Homo sapiens: one gene and its partner. The protein of the gene in region 1 interacts with the protein of each later gene in a pairwise test. Each region holds a gene or a part of one and is shown on either strand. Other genes may lie near its edges.

Region 1 (3,809 bases):
TGGCCATTGGGCAGTGCCGGGTGCCAGGCCCTGAAGGGGTCCTGGAGACAGAGGGGCTGGGTGTAGAGGTGATGCTGGGCAGCAGAGAACCTCTGACTTTGGTGCAGAGCATTCCCCTTCCCCAAGCTTGATAAACACCCAGCCTGCCCTGGTCACTGAGCAGGGACAAAGGTTCACAGAGGTGGCCCCGTCACAGCTGGACACTATTGACTCTCCTTGGCACCAGACCTAGCATGTCCTTGGCTTCAGAGGATGCAGCTTTCCCTTCTCCTCTCTATCAAAGTTCTCTGAGCCCCTGCTGGGCACCAGCGGCCAGTCCAGGCACTGGGGACGCAGCAGAGACATGGAGTGCACTGTCTCAGGGGGAGACAGGCATTAGCTGAACCTTCGCAAGGCGGTGAGTGTCCCAGATGGAGAGAGCAATGGCAGAGAGTGCAGGGGACTCCACTTCCTTATTGGTCAGGATGGGCTGGGGGGGTGGTTGTCTCCTTTCCCACTAGATGGGTGTGAAGTCCAAGGCAGTTAGGCACATGCGGGTGCTCTGGGACCCCAGTGGTCTGCTTCCACTCCACGGATTATCACCAGAGGGGCAGGGCCTTGGCCACCAGGATGCTCAAGCATCAGGGTGCAGGTGAGAGGGTTGCGTTCAAGCCTGTGCCACTCACAGGGCAGTCAAGGCTCAGAGGGGTTTGAGGACTGGAGAGTGGAGGAGCTTTAGGTGGGGAAACAGCTGCGCAGGCAGGCACTTTTTGGTCTTTGACTGTTTTGCCTACATGCTACACTTGCCCAGTTAAAATGCAGGCGGCCTAGTTAAATTTGAATCTCAGGTGAAATAATTTTTAAATGTAAGTGTGTCCTATCCAATATTGGGAACATACTTATATTAAAAATAGTTTATTTTTTAAATCTGAAATTCGAATGTAACTGTTGGCTTGTATTTTTATTTGCGTAATCTGGCAACCCTCTGGAAGCCTCAGCAACATGAGGGTCAGAGGGCAAATGGCTGTTCTACCCCCATTCTGTGACTCAACAGGCGTGAAGCTGAGGTCAGGAGTCCTCAGATGTACAGTGACTCCTATGATGTTGACGGTGGGCTGATTCAGGGCTTTGGCCCTCCTGGGGTCCAGAGAGCCTCCTCGCGCATGCCCTTCTCTCATACTCACCCATACTCAGTTGTTCACAGACATATGTGCTATTTTCCAGGATAATTCTGGAAAATCTGTTTGAAACCAGAAGTGCCCCTGGTTATGCAATGGGCTTGGAGAGGTCTCTTTTGCAAACAGGTGGTGCAATTTCAGAAAACACTCTTGCAGGCACAGCTCTCCTGGGGGATGGAAGCAGGATCCAGGCGTTTGGCAATAGGAGGCTGTGGGCAGGCAGCTGAGGGTGGGGTCAGAGGCCTGCGAGGTGGCAGGTGAGCACTGTCCTTCTGACCAGGCCTCCTGTGTTCCTTTCCTGCAGCCGCCACCGGCACGGCCAGGCCAGCATGGTGGACCACTTACTTCCAGTGGACGAGAACTTCTCGTCGCCAAAATGCCCAGTTGGGTATCTGGGTGATAGGCTGGTTGGCCGGCGGGCATATCACATGCTGCCCTCACCCGTCTCTGAAGATGACAGCGATGCCTCCAGCCCCTGCTCCTGTTCCAGTCCCGACTCTCAAGCCCTCTGCTCCTGCTATGGTGGAGGCCTGGGCACCGAGAGCCAGGACAGCATCTTGGACTTCCTATTGTCCCAGGCCACGCTGGGCAGTGGCGGGGGCAGCGGCAGTAGCATTGGGGCCAGCAGTGGCCCCGTGGCCTGGGGGCCCTGGCGAAGGGCAGCGGCCCCTGTGAAGGGGGAGCATTTCTGCTTGCCCGAGTTTCCTTTGGGTGATCCTGATGACGTCCCACGGCCCTTCCAGCCTACCCTGGAGGAGATTGAAGAGTTTCTGGAGGAGAACATGGAGCCTGGAGTCAAGGAGGTCCCTGAGGGCAACAGCAAGGACTTGGATGCCTGCAGCCAGCTCTCAGCTGGGCCACACAAGAGCCACCTCCATCCTGGGTCCAGCGGGAGAGAGCGCTGTTCCCCTCCACCAGGTGGTGCCAGTGCAGGAGGTGCCCAGGGCCCAGGTGGGGGCCCCACGCCTGATGGCCCCATCCCAGTGTTGCTGCAGATCCAGCCCGTGCCTGTGAAGCAGGAATCGGGCACAGGGCCTGCCTCCCCTGGGCAAGCCCCAGAGAATGTCAAGGTTGCCCAGCTCCTGGTCAACATCCAGGGGCAGACCTTCGCACTCGTGCCCCAGGTGGTACCCTCCTCCAACTTGAACCTGCCCTCCAAGTTTGTGCGCATTGCCCCTGTGCCCATTGCCGCCAAGCCTGTTGGATCGGGACCCCTGGGGCCTGGCCCTGCCGGTCTCCTCATGGGCCAGAAGTTCCCCAAGAACCCAGCCGCAGAACTCATCAAAATGCACAAATGTACTTTCCCTGGCTGCAGCAAGATGTACACCAAAAGCAGCCACCTCAAGGCCCACCTGCGCCGGCACACGGGTGAGAAGCCCTTCGCCTGCACCTGGCCAGGCTGCGGCTGGAGGTCAGTATAGCGAGTGACAGGCCTGGGCAGTGAGCACAGCCACTCATGTCTGCTTACTTGGGTGTGCAGCAGGGCCATTTTCCACCATTAACAGAAGGTAGATGAGGGAGGGGAGGGAGGGGCAGGCGGGTGCAGGCCCAGAGCTGGCACAGTTGCCTGGAGGCTTCCTTGGTCCTCCTGGTTCCTGAAGCCGGAAGCCAACTGGTGTCCAGTTTCCTGATGGCCAGGTAAGGCTTCACTGGCCTGTGCTGCCAGCTGGGTCTCCCCATCCAGTCTGACAAGGGTGGGGATTGAGGGGCTGGCGAGGAAGGATGAGTGCGGTCTAGGGGCCAGGCAGCGGCTCCCTTTGGGCCCACAGCCCCACAGGGTAAGTACCACCATCACTCCCAACTTACATCACAGGACACTAGGGCTCCGACTGGCCAGGTACTTGCCCAAGGTCACTCTGCTTTGTGAATGGGATTTGAACCCAGAGGCCGGATTCGAGAGGTCACATCCTGAAAATGCTGCTTCCCCAACCAGTGGGACTAGCTTCATTCACAGATGTCTCTGGACACATGGGCTGGGCCTCGCCTATGCTTCCTCCCTGGGGACGTGGAAGCATGTTTGGGAGGCTGCAAAGGCCAACCCAGAGGGAGGCTAGGCCAGCTGGTGGTGCTGTCACAGGTGGCAGAACCCAGGCTGTCTGGTCTGCATGGCAGTGGGGAAATCAGGCCTCAAATGGTAACTGGTAGTCTCCCAACCAGGGAGCACCCTTCCCTGAGCACCGGGTGCTGCTCAACCTCCTTGGGAGTGGCTGTCCACCTTTTCCTGAAATGTAGGCTGCTTGCGAAGAGCTCATGTGCTCCGGGGTGCCAGAGCCAGCCCTCTGCAGTTCCTGATGCCCATCCCAAAGGAATCTCTGGCCTGCCTGGGGGGCGCTGTGTGCTGTTGGCACATTCCAAATCTTTGCTGCTGTGGCTGCTGCTACGTGTGTGAGACGGGGCACACTCATCTGTATCCCTGGGGGTGTATACAGGCCTGGGCCTCGCCAGCAGGTGTGTGGCTGTGTGTGTGCACACCCACATGTGTATGCATCTTGCTTTCTTTGTGTCTGTCTGTGCCGTGTGACCATATGTGTTTGCACACATACATGTCTTAGGTGTTTGTGCACCATGTGTGGCTGCCTGTGTGTGCATGTGTTATGTGTGGGTGCAACACCCGGGGAGCAGTTTGCAGCTTTTGTTTTCTTGACCATACTC
Region 2 (3,909 bases), on another chromosome or scaffold:
TTCTGAGGCGGTGGTCGGGTTTCAGGGCCCTGTCGCTTTCATCGCCTTTCATCACCATCTATTTCCCTAGTCCGACTTTCGTTTCTTCCATCGCAAACACCGGCTTTGACTACAGCTTCTAGATTAATCACCACCTCTTAAGGAAAAAAAAATGCTATACTACATTGACTTTTAATTTAAGATCGTCTTCATGCTGGACTGAGAAAGTATGCTTTCTCTTCCTTTCTCCGGGCTGTTTTATAATAAAGCTCATTTAAGTTTCTTATTCAAAGATGAAGAGAGTAGCAGTTGTAAATATTCGAGGCAACACTTTCATTTTAGGTGGAGATTTTAAAAAGCTATTTACTCATTGGGGGGGAAAAACCCCAAACTTTCAATTGGAGAGAAAACATTTTTCATGGTAAAATGTGGGTTTGCATCTTCTTCTCCAGCAATTCCAGAAACCAATTCGGTGAGAAGACAATTCAGACCCCTCTCACTACTGCTCTAGTGCTAGCTGATAAGACTTGCCTTTTAAAAGGAAAAATCTCTCATTCTTATCATATACAAACAGAGATCCTAGTAAGTTGTTGTTATTGTTTTTCTTTAGATCTTAGAAGTTTTAAAATAAAATCAAATGAAAAAAATTAAGATATATTTCTTAAACAGTAAAATACATTTGAGAAAAAAGTAGACTCAATGATTATCAGTTTTTTGTGTTAAAAAATTAGGCTCAATGGGCATTACTTTTTAAGATAAAAGGTAACATTTCTTAAATCTTGGGTGAGAGTGACCTATTTTAGTATTTATTACACTCATACTAGTGAGGATTTACTGATTTTGCTGATCATTACTAGAACTTCTGGGATTTAAAAATATTAATCCACTTATAGGAGAAGCACAGAATATTTAAGCGGTTAAGGGCTTACGTGGACAATTTGGGGGGCATAGATGTGTCCTTATCCAATGGTCCTAAATATGCTTGTGAAAGAAACGGAGTTGGGTGTTTTTATTTACAAGGAAAGGAAAATCAAGTTCCACTCTCTGCTAAAAGAAGAAAAAAGGATTAACAAAATGCCTGTCCGCTCGCAGCGTCTTGTCAGTGTTCTCAGTTCCGCAGCAGCCACTGCACCCCAGGGAGGATGGCGATGGAGCGGGAGCGGGGGATCCCTCCTCTGTGCCAGCTCAACACACTTGCAAACTTTTAATTGGGCTGCCACGTCAAACCCTCGCATAAATCACTCCCGCTCCGGGGGCTGGTAGGGCAGAGAGCGAGGGCCGTGTCTAGACCGCCCGCCTCCGGTCCCTGGAGGCTCTAGGCCCGCGGTGGTCGAGATGTGTAAGTCACCGCCGCGCCCACACCCCCACTCCCAGCCCCGCGCGCACTCGCGCCCACCGCAGGCGGGAGTGCGGGCGCGCCTGGACTGCAGCTGCAGCCCCGGGAGCACTCACCAGGTTGACCGGGTGAATGTACCCGTTCTCGTATTTGTCGTTAGCCAGGATCTGCCTCAAGTGGGCGATGTAGCTGGACGCCAGCCTGAGCGTGTCCAGCTTGGAGAGCTTGGTGTCGGGGGGCACCCAGGGCAGGGTGGTCTTGAGTCTGGAGAAGGCCTTGCTCAGCACTCGCATGCGGGCCCGCTCTCGCGCGTTGGCGGCGTTGCGCTGGACCTGCTTCCCCTCCTGGCTGACCCCGCTCAGGGGGCTCTTCTTGGTGGGCGCCTTCCTCCTCTTGCCCAGGCCGCCGCGGCCCTTCTGGGGAGACCCATTCTCGCAGTTGGAGCTCTCCTCGGTGCTCTCGTTGGAAGTCACAAATTCCTTGTTCGAATCCATTTTCAACCCGTCACATTCCAACATCTCCACCTCTTGAAGGTCCTCCACATCGCTGAGGGAGCCGGTGGACATGTTTGGGGGAGTGGACGAGGGAGAGAGAGAGAGAGAGACAGAGAGACAGAGAAAGCGAGGAAGAGGGTGAGAGAGAGACAGAGAGACCCTGAAACCAAGAGGCCTCCCGAGTGTGGCGCAGCCACCTCCTGCTGGGAGCTGGAGTTGGGGTCTGGTTGGGTCTCACAACCCTTTCCCCTTCGCAGAGTTGTGAGAAGGAACCCCGAGGACTTCTGCAGCAGAGGAACCGGCTCTCTGTTTCCCCACTCCCAGAGTCGTGGCCGTAGAGGAGGGTGAGCGAGCGCTGAGGAATTTGGTGGACACTAGGAATTTATCTGGGGAATAGAGGGGCGGATCCTTGCAGCCCAGGGAGGGGCCTGCCAGGCCCCAGCAAAGCGCTTAGACCCCTTTCACAACCGGAGGGAAACTCAATGCACAGACCCTGATTTGCAACTTGTAATGTAAATCAACTCAACTGCATCATGTACTTACCAGCCACCTTCTCCCAACTGTGGCCGGGGCCGAGAAGCAGCATGTTCTGTCCATCTGTAAAAGGCCTTCTTTCTCTCTTAAGACGTCACAACTGGTTGTTACTGAGAACTTTAGAAAAACGACTAGATCGTTTGGCTCTTTCTGGGCCTTCCACCTACACTCCATGCCCTCTCTCCTCCCAAGAAAACACGAATTAAAATACAGGGAGTATCAACCGCATCCTGCCAACACCTCATAAGACTCCAAGGCTTTACCGAGATCTTCCACCTTCCCCGGGATAAATGAAGACAAGTGCTTCCTAGAATCTTTATGGTGATGGAAAAGTAAGTATAAAACATTTCACCTACACCTGGTCATTTTCAAGACATCAAAGGACTGCCTACGTGTACACAAACATACTTGATTTGCACACTCAAACCCAACCACACACAGCTTAGTGGGAGTGGGTAGGGAATGAGAGGGCAGTATGAGTGTGTGGAAAACATTATGTTAGTTGATCATCTTTTCCTAATAAATGGAAACTTTCCCCTCGGTTTTTTTTTCTTTTCTAGAAATGCATTTAATATTGCCTTGAGAGTCTTTGTTGCTCTCAGACATCACCTTGCCTGGCACTTTTTGTGATGCACCGTCCCTTTCAATGCTGCTGTCTTTGTCTTCTTCCAGCCTGTTAGGTGCCAGTGTTCCTCACATGAAGCTGACATTACACAACACAAAGCAAGACTATCCTTTTGAGAAAGGTTCTTTTCCATCTTTAACCCCAGCTCGAACCACCTTTCCTAGAGAATAAGAAAGTCTCCTGGGAAGTAGGTAGAAAAAGCACAGGGAAACAGAACCTAGGGATTGGATGAAATTGGTGCAATGAAACCAGGGAGACTGAAGGCATAAATCTCTCTTACAATTTCTTTGCCAGGTTTTCTTCCCTTGCAGGTAGGCATTGAAGTTGAGGGGCTGGAGCAAAATGTAAGAGTGGTTTCTGAGTGGTTGGCTTAGGGTCTGAAGGCTTCTCCTACATTAAGATATCATATCTCTAATCCTAGGCTCAGCTGGGAATTCACTAACCTCTAACGTTTTGTTTTGCTAGCAGGGTCTTGTTTGCTTTCCCCCTATGCTGTAAACTAAACAGGTTGTCAGCAAATCAGTCTTTATTAATGAATTAGCGACCCCTCTTCCATAATATCTTCGCTGAGGATCCAAAATTTGTTAATCACCAGTGTAGAGATTTATGAGCTCTCTTATTTTCTGTTGTTTGTGCAGGTGGAGATTTAAATGACCACATCCACCCTAAGATTTATTGTGAGAATGATTGATGTTATAAACCAGGAAAAGGACTCTTCCCACAGCAGGGATGACAGAAATATCAAGTTGAAGTTGCCTTTGTCTTCACATACGAATGACCCAGTACTACAACACAGAAAGTATAATAATTTAATCTGAGGTTCAAGACAGCAGTGAGAGAACACCCAGCAGGCCTGTTAAAAATTTCTTCACTAATTCCTCAACTAGTTTCCTTTGATTTGCTCTCCCTTTTCTCAGTCTTGGTAAAACATGAAAGTTAAA

Evidence for each region.
Region 2: the proteins of KLF15 (region 1) and TCF21 interact in a two-hybrid assay, tested with the Homo sapiens proteins (one large-scale study listed by BioGRID and IntAct).

The regions. Positions count from the first base shown.
Region 1 is NC_000003.12:126,350,600-126,354,408, reverse strand, and holds part of KLF15 (Krueppel-like factor 15), read left to right. Parts: intron 1-1,461; coding exon of another isoform or gene 1,462-1,486; coding exon 1,487-2,568; intron 2,569-3,809. UniProt on the Homo sapiens protein: Transcriptional regulator that binds to the GA element of the CLCNKA promoter. Binds to the KCNIP2 promoter and regulates KCNIP2 circadian expression in the heart. Is a repressor of CCN2 expression, involved in the control of cardiac fibrosis.
Region 2 is NC_000006.12:133,887,370-133,891,278, reverse strand, and holds the start of TCF21 (transcription factor 21), read right to left. Parts: upstream 2,167-3,909; 5' UTR 1,882-2,166; coding exon 1,432-1,881; intron 1-1,431. UniProt on the Homo sapiens protein: Involved in epithelial-mesenchymal interactions in kidney and lung morphogenesis that include epithelial differentiation and branching morphogenesis. May play a role in the specification or differentiation of one or more subsets of epicardial cell types.